Regions from separate parts of the Homo sapiens genome. Here region 2 is linked to region 1. Evidence: fine-mapped expression QTL. A gene starts in region 1. The other region holds a variant in brackets. All regions are shown on one strand. Distances are between the middles of the regions.

Region 1 (8,330 bases):
TCAAACACACATGCTCTACAATTTGTGCAGTTAATGCAATTATTACAGGGTCCTGAGGCGACATACATCTTCCTCAGCTGACAGGATTAAGAGATTAAAGTAAAGACAGGCATAGGAAATCGCAAGGGTACTGATTGGGGAAGTGATAAGTGTCCATGAAATGTTTACAATTTATGTTTAGAGATTGCAGTAAAGACAGGCATAAGAAATTATAAAAGTATTAATTTGGGGAACTAATAAATGTCCATAAAATCTTCACAATCCACGTTCTTCTGCCATGGCTTCCGCCGGTCCCTCCGTTTGGGGTCCCTGACTTCCCGCAACAAGGTAGCTCCCGCCCCTCCAGCTTCTTTGTCCTTCCAATCTTCCTGGGATCAGACGGAATGCACTGGGGTCTGCTCTTTGCCATGGCAGAGGCCTCTACATATGACTGGGAGGGTCAGTTTCTCATGACAGTTAGCAGGCGCTTGTGGCTGCAGATGCAAAATCATGGTCCCTAATCGGCTTTATTATTATTTTATTTATTTTATTTTTAGAAATGGGTTCTCACTATGTTGGCCAGGCTGCCTGAATTCTGGTGTTTTTGTACGTGGAAACTGGTGATGCAAGTACTGAATGTACCTCAGGCAGCTGGAGGAAGATACAGACGGATTGCCATCCGTCCCCCAGGTTAAGGATTCCCAATGAAGTCACTCTCTTCCCACCACTCCTCCTGAGAGGGTACGGTGGAAGGAAGGGTCTGAATTTTCCTCCCCAGAATTTCCCAAGACACAGGTATATTTGTCATGAATGTGAGGAGTGAGAACAAGGGCCTGCCCCGGCCCCCAGTCTGATTGCCCTCTCCGGCACTGCTTGCCGTGGGTGTTAGGCCCGCTTAAATTTTTGTTGTTGTTGTTGTGGTTGTTCTTCATGGAGTCTCGCTCTGTCGCCCAGGCTGGAGTGCAATGGTATGATCTCGGCTCACTGCAACCTCCACCTCCCAGGTTCAAGCGATTCTCCTGCCTCAGCCTCCCGAGTAGCTGGGATTACAAGCGTGCACCACCACACCCGGCTAATTTTTTGTAGTTTTAGTAGAGATGGAGTTTCACCACGTTGGCCAGGCTAGTCTCAAACTCCTGACCTCAGTTGATCCGCTCACCTCGGCCTCCCAAAGTGCTGGGATTATAGGCGCGAGCCACCGTGCCCAGCCAATGGGTAAATATGCTGAGTATGTATTTCTAAAGGTTTGAACACAGAAGAAAGGTCTGAGATGGAATTTTTTTAAGTGGGGTAATTTACATGTAAGTAGCAGTTGAAGAAATGAGACAAGGTAAGCTCTCTTAGAGGAAAATGTAGAATAAAGTAAGGAGAATGCGCAGGGCAGACACTGAGTAGAGGAGAAAGTAGCAAAGGAGATTGAGAGTGGTTGGCAGAAAATGAAGGAAGGGTGGTATTATTGATGATAAGGAAATCAAGTGTTCCAAGAAGGACAGACAGTTCATGGTGTCAAATATTGCTGAGAGGTCAAGTAAAGGAAAACTAAAAAATGCCCACTGGTGGCCAGGCACTATGGCTCACACCTGTAATCCCAGCACTTTGGGAGGCCAAAGCAGGTGGATTACTTGAGGTCAGGAGTTTGAGACCAGCCTGGGCAACAGAGCAAGACCCTGTCTCTACCAAAAAAATACAAAAAATTAGCCCGATGTGGTGGCACGCATCTGTGATCCCAACTACTCATAAGGCTGAGGTGGGAGGATTGCTTGAGCCCGGGGAGGTGAAGGTTGCAGTGAGCTGAGATTGTGCTACTGCACTCCAGCCTGGGTAACAGAGAGAGACCTTGTCTCAAAGGAAAAAAAAAGCCCACTGGTTTTAGAAACAGGGAGGTCAGTGGAGTAGGGAACAGCTCTGTTCTGGGCCCTGAGGACCTTGGACATCTTCACATAGCTGTGTGGCAAGGTCCATCACCGTGTGAACTGAGTTTGGCAGAATGCTTGGAGGTTCCTCCTGAAACTAAGGGAGACAAGCAACCTTGTAAGAAACGACAGTGACAGCAGCGCCCCTGGGCCCCTGGTTGGCTGCGTCTGGGATGCTCCCTTTGCCCCTCCTTGGGGTACAGCTGCGGACACACCACTGCCTGGCTGCAGTGTGGAGCTGGCGCCTCAGCAGCACCGTGGCCACCATCTGTGCTTTCTGTCATCTGGCCCCTATGGTTTGCTGTCATCTTGTGTGTCTAGGGACACAGGCTGCTGATCATGCTGTAGCTGTTTGAGTAAGAAATAAACAATCTAGGCTGGGCACAGTGGCACACACCTGTAATCCTAGCACTTTGGGAGGCCGACGCAGGTGGATCACTTGAGGTCAGGAGTTTGCCACCAGCCTGACTAATATGGTGAAACCCCGTCTCTACGAAATACAAAAAAATTAGCTGGACATGGTCCTGCATGCCTGTAATCCGAGCTACTTGTGAAGCTGAGACAGGAGAATCACTTGTACCTGGGAGGTGGAGGTTGCAGTGAGCCAAGATCTCACCATTGCGCTCCAGCGTGGGCAACAAGAGTAAAACTCCACCTCAAAAAAAAGAAAGAAAGAAACAATCTCTATCTTTTGTGCTCATTGCTGATCAAATCCATGTAAATATGGCAAACCAGCCTAGCATCTGTGGCAGTTGACGCCGGTAACCCTGTCAGCTGCTGGATTGCTGCCTAGGGACTGCTTGGATGCTTGGCAGTTGGTAGCCCTGTAAATAGGAAATATCCATTAGGAGAGCCTGCAGCCACCAGTCACAGAGTGATTACACGCCCCCTGTAGGAGATGTGAAAAAGAAAAAGAGGAAATCAAATATTCTGCAATCTTACAACTAGTAATGATGTATTTATTTTCAGCTTTTTATATACGTTTTTCAAGCACTTCCCAAGTATTTATAGAGTACTTACTATGTTCCAGGCTGGTGGCTGAGCAGTGAACAAACCAACCTAGGTCCTTATATCTGGAAACCTTAAGTTTGTGAACTTAAACACCCATATATACAATTGAGATCATATCATAAATATAATTTTGTATTCTATTTTTCACATTCTATTTCATAAGCATTACCCTCTGCCAATACTTTTTTTTCAAATACCACACATAATGGCTGCATAATGTTCAACTGAGTGTACAGAAGACAATAGATTTATCTATTTCTGTGCTGCAAAAAGCATAATTATCTTCCATTTCCCCTTCTATGAATAACTAGCTATTTTCCAAATTCTCCCCATTATTTAAAAAAAACCACACACACAACAAACTCTGGAATGGGCACCCTTCTCTTTGTCATTTTTGTTATTTCCATAGGATAGATTCCTAGATTAATTGAAGTGTTTAAGGCTCTTTATGTACAGCTTAATTCATTTTCAACATTGTACTAAACACGCTTCCTCAAGCATAGCAGTGCGTAATTCTCCACAATCTCCCCAGCACTGATATTAATAATGTAAGGCATCTTCTTAATCATGTGTGACTTTGCATGGTGCTTTAGACTTCTAGACATTCTCCATCCTCGTTGATCGTCTCAAGTTCAGATATAAAATTTCTGCCTTGATTCTAACACAGTGTACAGGGCCTACACTATATTCTGGGTGACAAGATGGCTTGGCTTTCCTTTCCTTCTCCCCCTGCTCCTAAGCTGGTCTCCTCACCTTTATCAAGTGCTATTTTTTCAACCATGCTTTATTGTGTAGGGGCCAAAGGGAAAGTTCCTCTTTGCCCTCTGAAGGTTCACTGAAAGCCAACTCATAAAAGGCAGATTTTTGGAGAAAAGGCAAATAAATGGATTATTTATTTATTTATTATTTATTTTTGAGATGGAGTCTCGCTCTGTCACCCAGGCTGGAGTGCAGTGGCGCGATCTCGGCTCACTGCAACCTCCGCCTCCCGGGTTCAAGCGATTCTCCCGCCTCAGCCTCCGGAGTAGCTGGGACTACAGACGCCCGCCACCACGCCCGGCCTTTACCGCCAGTTTTCACACAGAAAAGCGGGGGGAACATCAGAGTCGTGTTTTTAGGTTTTGTGGCTGGCTTTGGGGGTCTGGCCTCTGGGACTCGCCTTGGGTAAAAGGGATTCACTCTGTGAGGAGCCTCGCGGGAGAAAAGAACTGAGACTGGAGGCCTGGGAAGGTCAGAGGGAAACTGCCTCCCAGGCCTTCATTTTGGGGCGTTGTGTTCTGAGCCCCGATAATTGTAACATCTTCATAAGCGACTTTCTGGTGGTTATGGTGAATCGGGACACACGATGTATGGTGACCGACGGGGGAGCCGGGAGCCCAGCGGGGTTAGGGTTCAGGTGAGGGTTTAGGGTCGGGGCGAGCGCGGCGCGGCCCGGATGCGCAGCGTCACCGCGCCAGACCCTCCGCTCAGCTGCCGTGGGCTCTCCCCCTCCCCGACCATAGACGGCGCAGGCCTCCAGTCATCCCAGAGCGGCCCCGGAAGAATCCGGGCGGAACCGCGGCTGGCTTCCGGTTCCCGGCGTTCTCGGAGGCGTACTGAGGCCCCGCAGGGGGCGGGGAAGCCTGCGTGTGCGCAGCTCGGCCCGGCCCGCCCTCTTCATCCTAGCCCGCCCCCTCCCCGGCTCTGGACCCGGTTCTGTGGGAGGGTCCGTTCCGGGCTCGGTGCGACTGCGCAGCTCCTCGGCGCTTCCTCGGTGGCTTCCCCGGGTCGAGCAAACAGGTGGGGCAGTGTCGGACCAGGAAGGAGCGCCAAGCGGGCAGGCAGGCGGGGAGGGCGCGGGGAGGGCGCGGGGAGGCGGCGGCCAGTCCAGGAGGAGCCTGTTCTGGGTGCCGCGGGAGCCACCGACGGGCTGCAGAGGCCGGGAGGAGGCGACCGCGGCGCGGCCCTAGAAGGCTGGACTGAGGACCACAGCTGGCTTCCGGCCTCTCCCCGGAGCCTGGGGCCTTCGGCAGCATCCCCGCGGCCTCCTTCTCACGTCCTCAGCCTTGGTGAGGCTGCACCCTCACGTGGCTCTTTGCCCCAGGTTGGCCAGGCAGGTAGAACGGCCCTGCACCCCATTTCCAGGGCCTTCAGCAGGTCTGGACCACGGGAACTGCCAGCTTTCACCCCTTAGCCGGGCGTCCCTGGATCCCCCCGGGCTCTGGCTCTGGCCGTTCTGGGATTTCAGGAGTCACTGAGCAGTAGGGCACGTCGGCCCGTGCTGCATAGTGACCTGCCTCCCGCGACCCAGGAGGCCACAGCAGCAATCAGCTTCTGCCTCCTGGCCATCCTTCCACACCCCTGGTTGAATGGGGCTGAGCCTGAGTTCTCCCCACTGAAGGTAAGTTCGGGGAGACTTCAGGCCAGGGCAGTCTCCTGTCTTCTCTTGGAAACCACAGCAGCCCATGCACACAGAATGGCAGCCACATTCCAGCTTCCAGGGCACCAGGTGAGTTAACCCTCCTTCCTGCCCACCTCTTCATCTTCATCCCCATCCCAGTCAGAAGCTACTCTCCTCTGGAGCCGTGAGCCCGGCAACTGGTAAGGCCAGCCAGGGGCTCATAGCAACCGTGAGGAAAGGGTTCTGAGAGGTAGACTCGCCCTCCTGCAGGGAGAGGGGCTCTGAGCTCAGCTGGGTCCCCGTGTAGCTGAAGTTGGCTGGTCCTCAGCGCTCTCAGCTGCCCCATCAGGGACCTGCTGATACACAGTTCATACTGACCACAGCAGGGCCCTGGGTAGTGGGGCCCCACCAGGTCAGGGCCCTTTTAGTGCAGGCTGCTGCCCCGTGGGCATGGCCTGGGCAGCGGCGATGTTTTGTTGCAGGAGATGCCGCTGACCTTCCAGGATGTGGCCGTGTACTTCTCTCAGGCGGAGGGGCGGCAGCTGGGCCCCCAGCAGCGGGCGCTCTACCGGGATGTGATGCTGGAGAACTATGGGAACGTGGCCTCTCTGGGTGAGGCTCTCTGCACTTGGCCTGGTTCGCAGTGGGGGCCTCTGAGGAGCTTGGGAGGCTGCTTTGGCTCTTTGGATCCCAAAGAAGAGGGTCCTGCCCCTTGTCCCCGGGTATCAGTCTGATCTCTACAGAAGGAACATTTCCCATGGGAAAAGCCTGCCTTGCTCCCCAGTTCTAGGGACTTCACTCCCTGTTGCCAGTGGCCCCACTGGTGTCCCTCCAGTGGCAGGAGAGCTGATGAGTGGATTCTCCTTCAGTACTTAGTCTCAGCCCACGGGCCCCCTGACCAACACACGTGCAGGCGTACACACGTGCACACAGGGCCCATCTCTCCACACCTGGCCTGGAAGGCCCAGTGGGCCATGCCAGCTCACCAGTGTCCTCATCCTCAACAGGATTCCCTGTCCCTAAGCCGGAGTTGATCTCCCAGCTGGAGCAGGGGAAGGAACTTTGGGTCCTGAATCTTCTGGGAGCTGAGGAACCAGATATCTTGAAAAGCTGCCAGAAAGGTGAGAATGGATGGGATGCTAATCCTGGGAGCAGCCTCCCAATCCTGCCTTAAGAGGCTCCAAGCGAGGGACAGCTGGGGCATGGCGTTCATATTAATGGCCTCCCCCAGGGGCAGTCTCACAGATACAGCCCCTCTACAAATGTGAGCATGTGCACATGCTTTAGAAGTTTTATCTTGCTGGTCTGTTTCTTTGCTTTAAAAATATATATATACTACTTCTGATCATATTTTTGTTTTGGTGATTTACCTTGATAACAACTTCATTCCCTTCTTTATAATACACTTATTTCCTTTTGACAATAGATATCGGTACCCTACCATGTCCTTTTTATTCTTCACTCCATTCTCTCCTTCATTTGCCAAGTTTAGTCAGTAGTAGTCTTTTTTTTTTTTTTTTTTTTTTTTTCGAGACAGAATCTCACTCTGTCACCAGGCTGGAGTGCAGTGGCACGATCTCGGCTCACTGCAACCTCCACGTACCAGGCTCAGGCAATCCTCCCACCTCAGCTTTCCAAGTAGCTAGGACTACAGGCACATGTCACCATACCTGGCTAGTTTTTTTTTTATTTTTGTTGAGACAAGGTTTCACCACGTTGCCCAAACTGGTCTTAAATTCTTGAGATCAAGTGATCCATGTCGACCTCCCAAAGTGCTGAGATTACAAGCATGAGCCACTGCACCTGACCAGTGGCTTTTTTTAATGTTTACCTTTGTTCTATTGAATATACATCTACTACTTGATATGTCAGCTGTAAGTATTATCTTTGACTGCCAGCTACTGAGACAGTCAACAAGCTTGTTCTACTTTTCTCCCTTTTCCTCCTCATTCCTTTCCCAGTTTTTGTTGGTTATATTGTTTCTACACTGTCAGAACATATAACACTTTACAACTCATATCCGCAGCTTTGTTACTGGCTTATATCTCCAGTTAAGTATGTTATTAATAATTGTTTATCTCTGGTCCTTTTACCAAAAATTTCCCCATCTCTTGGTTGGCTGGAGCTTGTCTTCTAGTTTATTCAGAAAGGCTCGTGAAAAATATACCCCATATTTGTGCACATTCAAAATTGGTTGAATAAAGCATTTGGTTTCTACATGTAAGAGCTAAGATTGTAAAATTATATCGTTTTCTCAAAGTGCAGCTTAAGTTGCATCTCACAAAATTTTAATATGTTGTATTTTCATTAACATTTAGTTCAAAATGTTATCTAGTTTTTCTTGTGACTTCTTCTTTGACCCAATGATTATTTGGACATGCATTAATTTCCAGATAGTTGGTGTTTTCCTAGTTATCTTATTGTTATTGTCATTTAATTCCACTGTGGTCAGAGAACATACTCTGTATTATTTCATTCCTTTCATATTTGTTGCTTCTTGTTTTATGACCCCAAATGTGGTCTCTCCCAGTACAAATACCACGTGCACTGAAAAAGAATGTGTATTCTGCCATTTGGGGGTTAGATAAATATCAGTTAAGTCAAGGTGGTTGATGGTATTGTTCAGGTCTTCTGTATCCTTGCTGATTTTTTTTTTTTTTTTTTTTTTGGTCTAGTTATTCTTTCAGTTGCTGAGAGAGGGGTGTTAAAATACAGAAGTATGATTGTGGAATTGTCTTTTCTTCACTTTAATTTTTGTAGTGTTGGCTTCATGTATCTTGAAGCTGTATTATAAGACTTACTTCACTTATGACTATCATTATGAGAGATAAGAGAATTCCTGTTTGTCTCTGGTAATACATTTTGTTTTGAAATATATTTTATCTAATATTAATGTAGCAATTCCATCCTTCTTATACTTACTGTTAGCATAGTATATCTTCTTTCATCCATTTAATTTCAACCTGTCTTTACACTTAAAGTGAATCTCTTGCAGATATCATACAATTGGGTCTTGTTTCTTCATCCTAACAATCTTTGTCTTTTAA
Region 2 (8,330 bases), 110 kb before region 1:
AAACTCCCCCAGGGAAAGGGACACTCCCTTTCCCGGTCTGCTAAGTAGCAGGTATTTTTCCTTGGCACTGACGCTACTGCTAGACCACGGTCTACTTGGCAACAGGCGTTTTCCCAGATGCTGGCGTTACCACTAGACCAAGGAGCCCTCTGGTGGCCCTGTCTGGGCATAACAGAAGGCTCACACTCATGTCTTCTGGTCACTTCTCACTATGTCCCCTCAGCTCCTATATCTGTATGGCCTGGTTTTTCCTAGGTTATGATTATAGAGTGAGGATTATTATAATATTGGAATAAAGAGTAATTGCTACAAACTAATGATTAATGATATTCATATATAATCATGTCTGTGATCTGATCTAGTATAACTTGTTGTTTTATATATTTTATTATACTGGAACAGCTCGTGCCCTCGGTCTCTTGCCTCAGCACCTGGGTGGCTTGCCGCCCACACTACCAAAGTGCTGGAATTACAGGCATGAGCCATCATGCCCAGCCATCGTTTTCTTTCTTTTTTTTTTTGTTTTTTTTTTTTTTTGAGGCGGAGTCTCGCTCTGTCACCCAGGCTGGAGTGCAGTGGTGCGAACTCAGCTCACTGCAAGCTCCACCTCCTGGGTTCATGCCATTCTCCTGCCTCAGCCTTCCGAGTAGCTGGGACTACAGGCGCCTGCCACCACGCCTGGCTAATTTTTTGTATTTTTAGTAGAGATGGGGTTTCACTGTGTTAGCCAGGATGGTCTTGATCTCCTGACCTCATGATCCTCCCACCTCAGCCTCCCAAAGTGCTGGGATTACAGACGTGAGCCACTGTGCCCAGCCCAGCCATCATTTTCTTTCATCACTTTGTCCACTGAACTTAGGAGCAACCAACCAGCTTCATCATGTTCCTTGGTTCTCCACATATAGTCAAAGATATTATGTATAGGGTCACTAAACTCCTTGCCTCTCATGAATGGTGAATCAGGAGTGTCAAATGCATTTATTTTGCATAACTCTCTAAACAGTTTATGCCAAGGACTATCAGTGTTCTCCATACTATTAGAAGTAGAGTCCTTAACATTTTGGGGTCTAATCATATTAACCAGCCAAATCCAGAAACCCCAAAACCAATGACAGAACTCCATCCTTAATATCCTCTTCCTCCAGAACCACTCCTGGTACAAAAATCTGTATTAGTCAGAGTTCTCTAGAGGGATAGAACTAATGGAATATATATAAAAAGGGAAGTATTAAATTACACAATCACGAGGTCCCACTATAGGCTGTCTGCAAGCTTCAGGAGCAAGGAGAGCCAGTCCAAGTCTCAAAACTGAAGAACTTGGAGTCAGATGTTGGAGGGCAGGAAGCATCCGGCATGGGAGAAAGATGTAGGCTGGGAGGGTAGGCCAGTCTGGCCTTTTCACATTTCTCCAGTATTAACCATCACACCTATAAATTTCCCCAGCCTATAAGCAGCTATGGGCTCTGGAGTTAAGCTCGTCCCCCATCTCCACAGGTTTTTGCAATATACCTGTGTTGTTGCTGTTGAGCAACAATCTCTCTCTCTCTCTCTGTCTGTCTCCCCCCTCTCTCTCCTCTCTCTCTCTCTGTGTGTGTGTGTGTGTGTGTGTGTGTTTCTTTAGCCCTTGCCCTCCCTTCAAAACCTAACATTTTAGTGCCAAAACCCAGGATAGGAATTGGGTTCTAAATGGGTAAATGTTTTCTAGCAACCTGGAAAGCAGCAAGCAGCAAAAACCAGACCCAGGCCTGCTTCCAGATCCTGAATGGACTCCCTATTCCCAGCTCCGTTCCTTTATTCTCTCTTCTTCTCTGGTCCTGGGCTGACTTCCAGATCCTGATCAAACTCTCCATCCTCTTTTTCCTTCCTTCCCCTTTCCAGGCAGCTCCAGCAAGTATCAATCCCATTGCTGGACATCACATCCAACACCCGTCTCCAATTAGTGGGTGAGTCTCTCTTTTTTTCCTCTCCAGATTCCTCTCATATTTCTGGGGGTTCACCAGAAAATTCCAGTACCAGGTGAGAGGTCTCCCTGGTCACCAGGTGACCGTGGCCTACCCTCTCAGGGGACGCCGTCAGAATGCTCACCACTTTGGCCACTGCAGCCTCTGGGGGTCTGCAAAGAGCTGTAGGGACGCCCTGGCTCTCCTAGGTCCCTTCTCCCAGGAGGAATCGGGGTACTCACTCCCCTCCGGGGTATTCACTTCCCTCTGGGGTACTTCCATCCTCTAAATTTCTCACCCTCTGGCCAGCAGTATGGGGCAACACTCCTCAAAACCTCAAGACACCACTCTTGGATGTTTCCATCCAGAACCTCCAAGCCCAGGGCTTGGCAGACTCCATTAAAACTGAACGCCTTGCTGGCCAAGTGTGATAGTTCATGCCTGTAATCTCAGCACTTTGGGAGGCCAAGGTGGGCAGATCACAAGATCAGGAGTTCGAGACCAGCCTGGCCAATATGGTGAAACCCTGTCTCTACTAAAAATACAAAAATTAGCCGGGTGTGGTGGCAGGTGCCTGTAATCCCAGCTACCCAGGAGGCTGAGGCAGGAGAATTGCTTGAACCGGGGAGGCAGAGGTTGCAGTGAGCCAAGATCGTTCCACTGCATTCCAGTCTGGGTGACAGAGTGAGACTCTGTCTCAAACAAAAACAAAAACAAAAACAAAAAACTGAACACCTTACTTTCCTCTGTAATGTTGCCCAGCCCCAATGTAAACTAGACAATAATAGTCAATAGCCAAAAACCAAAACATTCAATTTCCACATCTGACATAATCTAAAAGACTTCCTCCAGTGCAATCGTAAATGATCTGAGGTGCTTTGCTTATCTGTGCTCCTGGCTCACTCTCTCTCTGCCAATCCCGTTCACCTTTTCAAATCTTCCTCCTCAACAAAAAACCCACAAAAACGCCTCCTCCTCCAGACAAACCTTTCTCCTCTAATTTCAACCTAGCCAACAAACTAGGCACGTGCCCAGCCCCCTTCCACCAAAAACCAGGCACACAGCCAAAGGTCCTCCTAAGTTCTCCCTTTCCAGGAGGTCACAGGGACTAAAGGCATAATCTGAGTTCATGTTCCCTTTTCCCTAGTCGACCTCTCTCAGCTTAAAAAGAGACTCAGCGGCCGGGCGTGGTGGCTCACACCTGTAATCCCAGCAATTTGGGAGGCTGAGGCAGGCTGATAACGAGGTCATGATATTGAGACCATCCTGGCTAACATAGTGAAACCCTGTCTCTACTAAAAATACAAAAAATTAGCTGGGCGTGGTGGCAGACGCCTGTAGTCCCAGCTACTTGGGAGGCTGAGGCAGGAGAATGGTGTGAACCCAGGAGGTGGAGCTTGCAGTGAGCCAAGATCACGCCACTGTACTCCAGCCTGGGCGACAGAGCGAGACTCTGTCTCAAAAAAAAAAAGAGATTCAGCTCGTTTTGCACAGATCCCACCTCCTTCCTCAAGGAATTTCTGTATGTCACTCAATTTTATGACCTTACCTGGCATGTCATATATGTCATCCTCTCCTGCACCCTCACCCCTGAGGACAGGGAATGCATCTGGATAGCTGCCCAGGCCCATGTAGACACCCTCCCATAGACAAGATGCTGCCCATAACCCAATATGGACCCTAACTGTCCCCAGAACTGACCCCAGTTGGG[A/T]TTATCAGGCAACTTCTGCAGACAGATAGAAATAAGGCCATATGATATGCCTCCTAGCTGGCATAAATAAAGCCATTCCTGGCCAGGCATGGTGGCTCACATCTGTAATCCCAGCACTTCGGGAGGCCAAGGCAGGCAGATCACCTGAGGTCAGGAGTTCGAGACCAGCCTGACCAACATGGAGAAACTCCGTCTGTACTAAAAAAAAAAAAAAAAAAAAAATTAGGCGTGGTGGTGCATGCCTGTATAAAGGGGAATAAGTATTAACTTACACAATCATAAGGTCCCACAATAGGCTGTCTGCAAGCTTGTGGAGCAAGGAGAGCCAGTCCGAGTCTCAGCTACCCGGGAGGCTAAGGCAGGAGAATCACTTGAACTCAGGAGGCAGAGGTTGTGGTGAGTCGAGATCACGCCATTGCACTCCAGCCTGGGCAACAAGAGTGAAACTCCATCTCAAAAATAAATAAATAAAGCTGTTCCTGCTCTTTTCTTCTCCTGCCTTTCAAAGGCCATAACTAAATATGCCACGTTGAACCCTAATGCCAATAAGGGAAGAATCTACCTCCATTTACACTTCATTTTCCAGTCAGCCCCAGACATTCTAATGAAACTTAAAAAACTGGAGAATAGCCCTCAAACCTCCCAAAAAGACTTAATCAAAGTGGCCTTTAAGGTCTTTAACAATAGAGAGGAAAAACTAAAAGTCCAAAAGCTAAAAAGAGACCAGGCTAAATGCCAGATGCTGGCAGCTGCCATTCAACAGGGTTCCCAACATGTACAGAAATCCTCAACCTTGCAGCAAACTCTACCAGAAGCCTGTTTTAAGTGCAGCCAACAGAGTCACTGGGCAAAGGCCTACTCTCAAAACTTTGCCCCATCTGTGGCATCAAGGAACATTGGAAGTGGGACTGTGCTCAGCAAAACTCTTCATCCCGCTTCACCACCTCTAACTGAAGACTGATGGGGCCAGGGGCCTACCACCCCAACTGCCATCACCACCTCGGAACCCAGGGTCAGTCTCTGGTAAGCCCATGTCTTTCCTATTGGATACAGGGACTAGTTACTCAGTTTTATTAGAATATTCTGGACCCCTCCTCAGTTCTTCTATCTGTATTGTGGGAGTTGATGGAATCCCCTCTAGGCACAAACAGACTGGTCCTCTATTATGCAACCTATTCAACACCCCATTCACCCACTCCTTCCTGGTTATCCCTCGGTGCCCTGCCCCTATCTTGGGGCAGGACATACTAAGTAAATCCCAGGCCTCCATACAATCTGCCTCCTGCAATTCCGCTCCTTTTATTTTATTCTGCCACCAGATGCTTCCCTCTCCCCCTCATCCTCGTTATCCACCCTGTTACCTTCTGTTAATTCTGAAATTTGGAACATTTTTAAACCCACAATAGCCACACATCACATCCCAGTTAAAATAACCCTCCAAAACCACTCCATTTTCCATCATCAGTCTCAATATCCCCTAACCCAGGCAGCCTCAGGGGCCTCAAACCTATTATCTGTAAACTTTTACAAGCTAATATTCTCAAGATCCTACCACTTGGTCCAGGATCTCTGAGTTGTTAACCAGGTGGTAATACCAATTCATCCAACACTCCACTCTCATCCCACATACTCCACTCTCCCATAGTCCCTCTTCTACCACACACTTCCCTGTACTGGATTTAAAGGACACCTTTTTCACTATTTCCTTAAATTCGGCTTCCCAAAGTATTTTTGCTTTCTCTTGGTCAGATCCTAATACCCACATGTCCACCCAACTAACATGGACCATACTCCCACAGGGGTTCTGGGACAGCCCCCACCTATTCGGACAGGCCGTCACCAAGGACCTAGCTGAACTTCCCATTGCTCCTAGCACCCTCCCTCAATAAGTCAATGACCTACTTTTCTGTAGCCCCTCCCTTAACCTGTCCATCCAACGCACCACTCAGCTTTTAAACTTCCTCCATAGGTAAAGATATTGGGTCTCACCAACAAAGACTCATGTAGCCCAAACCCAGGTCACTCACCTGAGTTCTAACCCCTAATTCTCAGGCCATCCTAACCCAACAAAAGGAGCTAATTCAAGACATTGCCCCTTCCCCACACAAAGAAGGACCTCCTGTCCTTCTTGGGCCTCATGGGATACTTCCGGCTGTGGATTCCCAACTTCTGTTTGCTGGCCAAGCTGCTCTACATGTCCTCACTTGGGCCCAGCCTAGAGCCTCTGAACCCGGCTCGTCCCATCAATTCACACTTTAAAAAAAACTAAAAAATACCCTTTTAATGGCCCCAGAACTGGGACTGCCCAACCCCACCAAGCCCTTTACTCTGCATGTACATTCTGACAAGGCCTTGCTCTTGAACTGCTCTGCCAAACACAAGCCATTGCATACCCCTCAAAACAACCAGACTGTCGTCCAAGGCTGGCCACCCTGCCTAAAAATCTTGGGTGCGGCCACATTGCTGGCCTCGGAGGCACAGAAACTCACTCTCTACCAACACATTACTATTTCATCTTCCCATAACCTACAGGACCTCATGAGCCATCAATCTCTTCTATCCCTCCCATCATCCTGCTTACACCAGGTACACACCTTATTCATAGGAAACCTTCTAATCACCTTCCAGAAAGGTAAAGCTCTCAACCCTCCCACTCTCCTCCCTGTAAACACCTCTGACTCTGAGCTGTCTCACTCCTGCCTGGACCTCTTAGACTCCCTTTCCTCCCCCTTCCAACACATTTCAGAAGCCCCTTTGCAGGGAACAACTACATGGTTCATTAACGGAAGCTCTTTAAAGGAGCCATGTCCACCATGTGGTTACAACATCATTGCCAAAATAAACTCTCAGAATCTAATGCTCTCCCACCCCATACTACCTCGCAACAGGCAGAACTACCTCTCAACAGATAGAGTTGGTTGCCCTAACCAGGGCCCTCACCCTAACAAAGGGAAAGAGGGTTAACTTTTACACTGATTCCTGGCCCGGCGTGGTGGCTCACGCCTGTAATCCCAGCACTTTGGGAGGCCGAGGCGGGCGGATCACGAGGTCGGGAGATCGAGACCATCCTGGCCAACACGGTGAAACCCCATCTCTACTAAAAATACAAAAATTAGCTGGGCATGGTGGCGGGCACCTGTAGTCACAGCTACTCTGGAGGCTGAGGCAGGAGAATTGCTTGAACCCAGGAGGCGGGGGTTGCAGTGAGCCAAGATTGTGCCACTTACTCCAGCCTGGGTGACAGAGTGAGACTCCATTACAGGAAAAAAAAACATTTACACCAATACCAAATATGCATACCACATCCTACATTCTCACACCTTAATCTGGCAGGAAAGGGGATTTCTAGCTAAAAAGAACCCCCATAGTAAATGGCAAACTCATACACAAGCTGGTGGAGGCAGCTAAACTACCACTACAGGCCACCATTATCCATTGTAAGGGACACCAAAAGGCTACAAATGCCATAACCAAGGGAAATCTTTTAGCAAATTAGGCAGCCCGGCAGGCAGCCCTTAAACCCCATCATTATTGCCCAGTTTTCCCAGCATATACCCTGTATGTACCCAGGAGGAACAAACCTCACTTGCCCTGGCTGGTGCCATTCAGGAAAAAATGGTTCTACCTCAGTGCTAAAATTGTCTTGGCCAAATTTTAAAAACCTTCTGGGCCGGGCATGGTGGCTCACGCCTGTAATCCCAGCATTTTGGGAGGCTGAGGCGGGAGGATCACCTGAGGTCAGGAGTTCAAAACCAGCCTGGCCAACATGGTGAAACCCCATGTCTACTAAAAATACAAAAATTAGCCGGACATGGTGGCAGGCGCCTGTAATCCCAGCTACTCAGGAGGCTGAGGCAGAGAACTGCTTGAACCCAGGATGGAGAGGATGCATTGAGCCGAGATCGTGCCACTGCACTCCAGCCTGGGTGACAGAGCAAGACTCTGTCTCAAAAAAAAAAACCTTCTGTACTTTTATATGTGCACAACCATTTCCATGCTGGTTGCCTCCCCCTACTTCAGCTCTTAAAAACATATACATTCTCCCACCATGGCTGCCAATCTCAAAGATATTACTAAGGCATGTTCCCTTTGCACTCAGACTTCCCCTCAGAAAGCTATCAAATCACCCCCTTTCCCCACACACCAGGCCTGAGGACACCTGCCAGGGCAGGACTGGGAAATCGCCTTCACCTGCATGCCCCCTGTAAAATGAGTCCAGAACCTTCTGACAATAGTAGATACACTGGATGGATAGAGGGGTTTCCTACCACCACTACTACTACTACTGAAAAGCCACACTGTTGCTTCTATTCTCCTCACACATATTATCCCCCGGTTTGGACTCCCCTCTTTCATCCAGTCAGACAACGGGCCAACATATGTTTCACAGGTTAGCCAACAGCTGGCAAAGGCTCTAAACATTAAATGGGCCTTCCATATTCCTTATTGACCCTCATCTTCAGGTAAGATTGAATGGTCCAATGCCCTTCTAAAACAACAATTATCCAAACTCTCCCTAGAGGTTAAAATGGCCTAAACTTTACTACTCCCCATGGCCCTCATGCATTTATAAGCCATTCCTCACAAGCCCCTCAGCATAAGCCCATTTGAACATATGTATGGATGCCCCTTTATCCTCCAAAATCTCCCTGTATCTCCCCGCCCTTCTGCATGGGGTA

Evidence for each region. PIP is the estimated chance that this variant, and not a neighbour inherited with it, causes the effect.
Region 2: its variant is fine-mapped to the expression of ZNF251 in whole blood (INTERVAL, PIP 0.91).

The regions. Positions count from the first base shown.
Region 1 is chr8:144,751,757-144,760,086 of GRCh38, reverse strand. It overlaps ZNF251 (zinc finger protein 251), which reads left to right and starts at 4,556. Exons shown (of 5, transcript NM_138367.2): 1 at 4,556-4,682; 2 at 5,284-5,391; 3 at 5,766-5,895; 4 at 6,291-6,404. The coding sequence starts at 5,359. LOC107986986 (a long non-coding RNA gene) reads right to left here. Exons shown (of 3, transcript XR_001746149.3): 3 at 1-2,781.
Region 2 is chr8:144,861,672-144,870,001 of GRCh38, reverse strand. No RefSeq gene overlaps it. Among named protein-coding and RNA genes, the nearest start is that of COMMD5, 13 kb to the right of the region's middle. The variant A/T (reference allele first, on the strand shown) is at 3,652.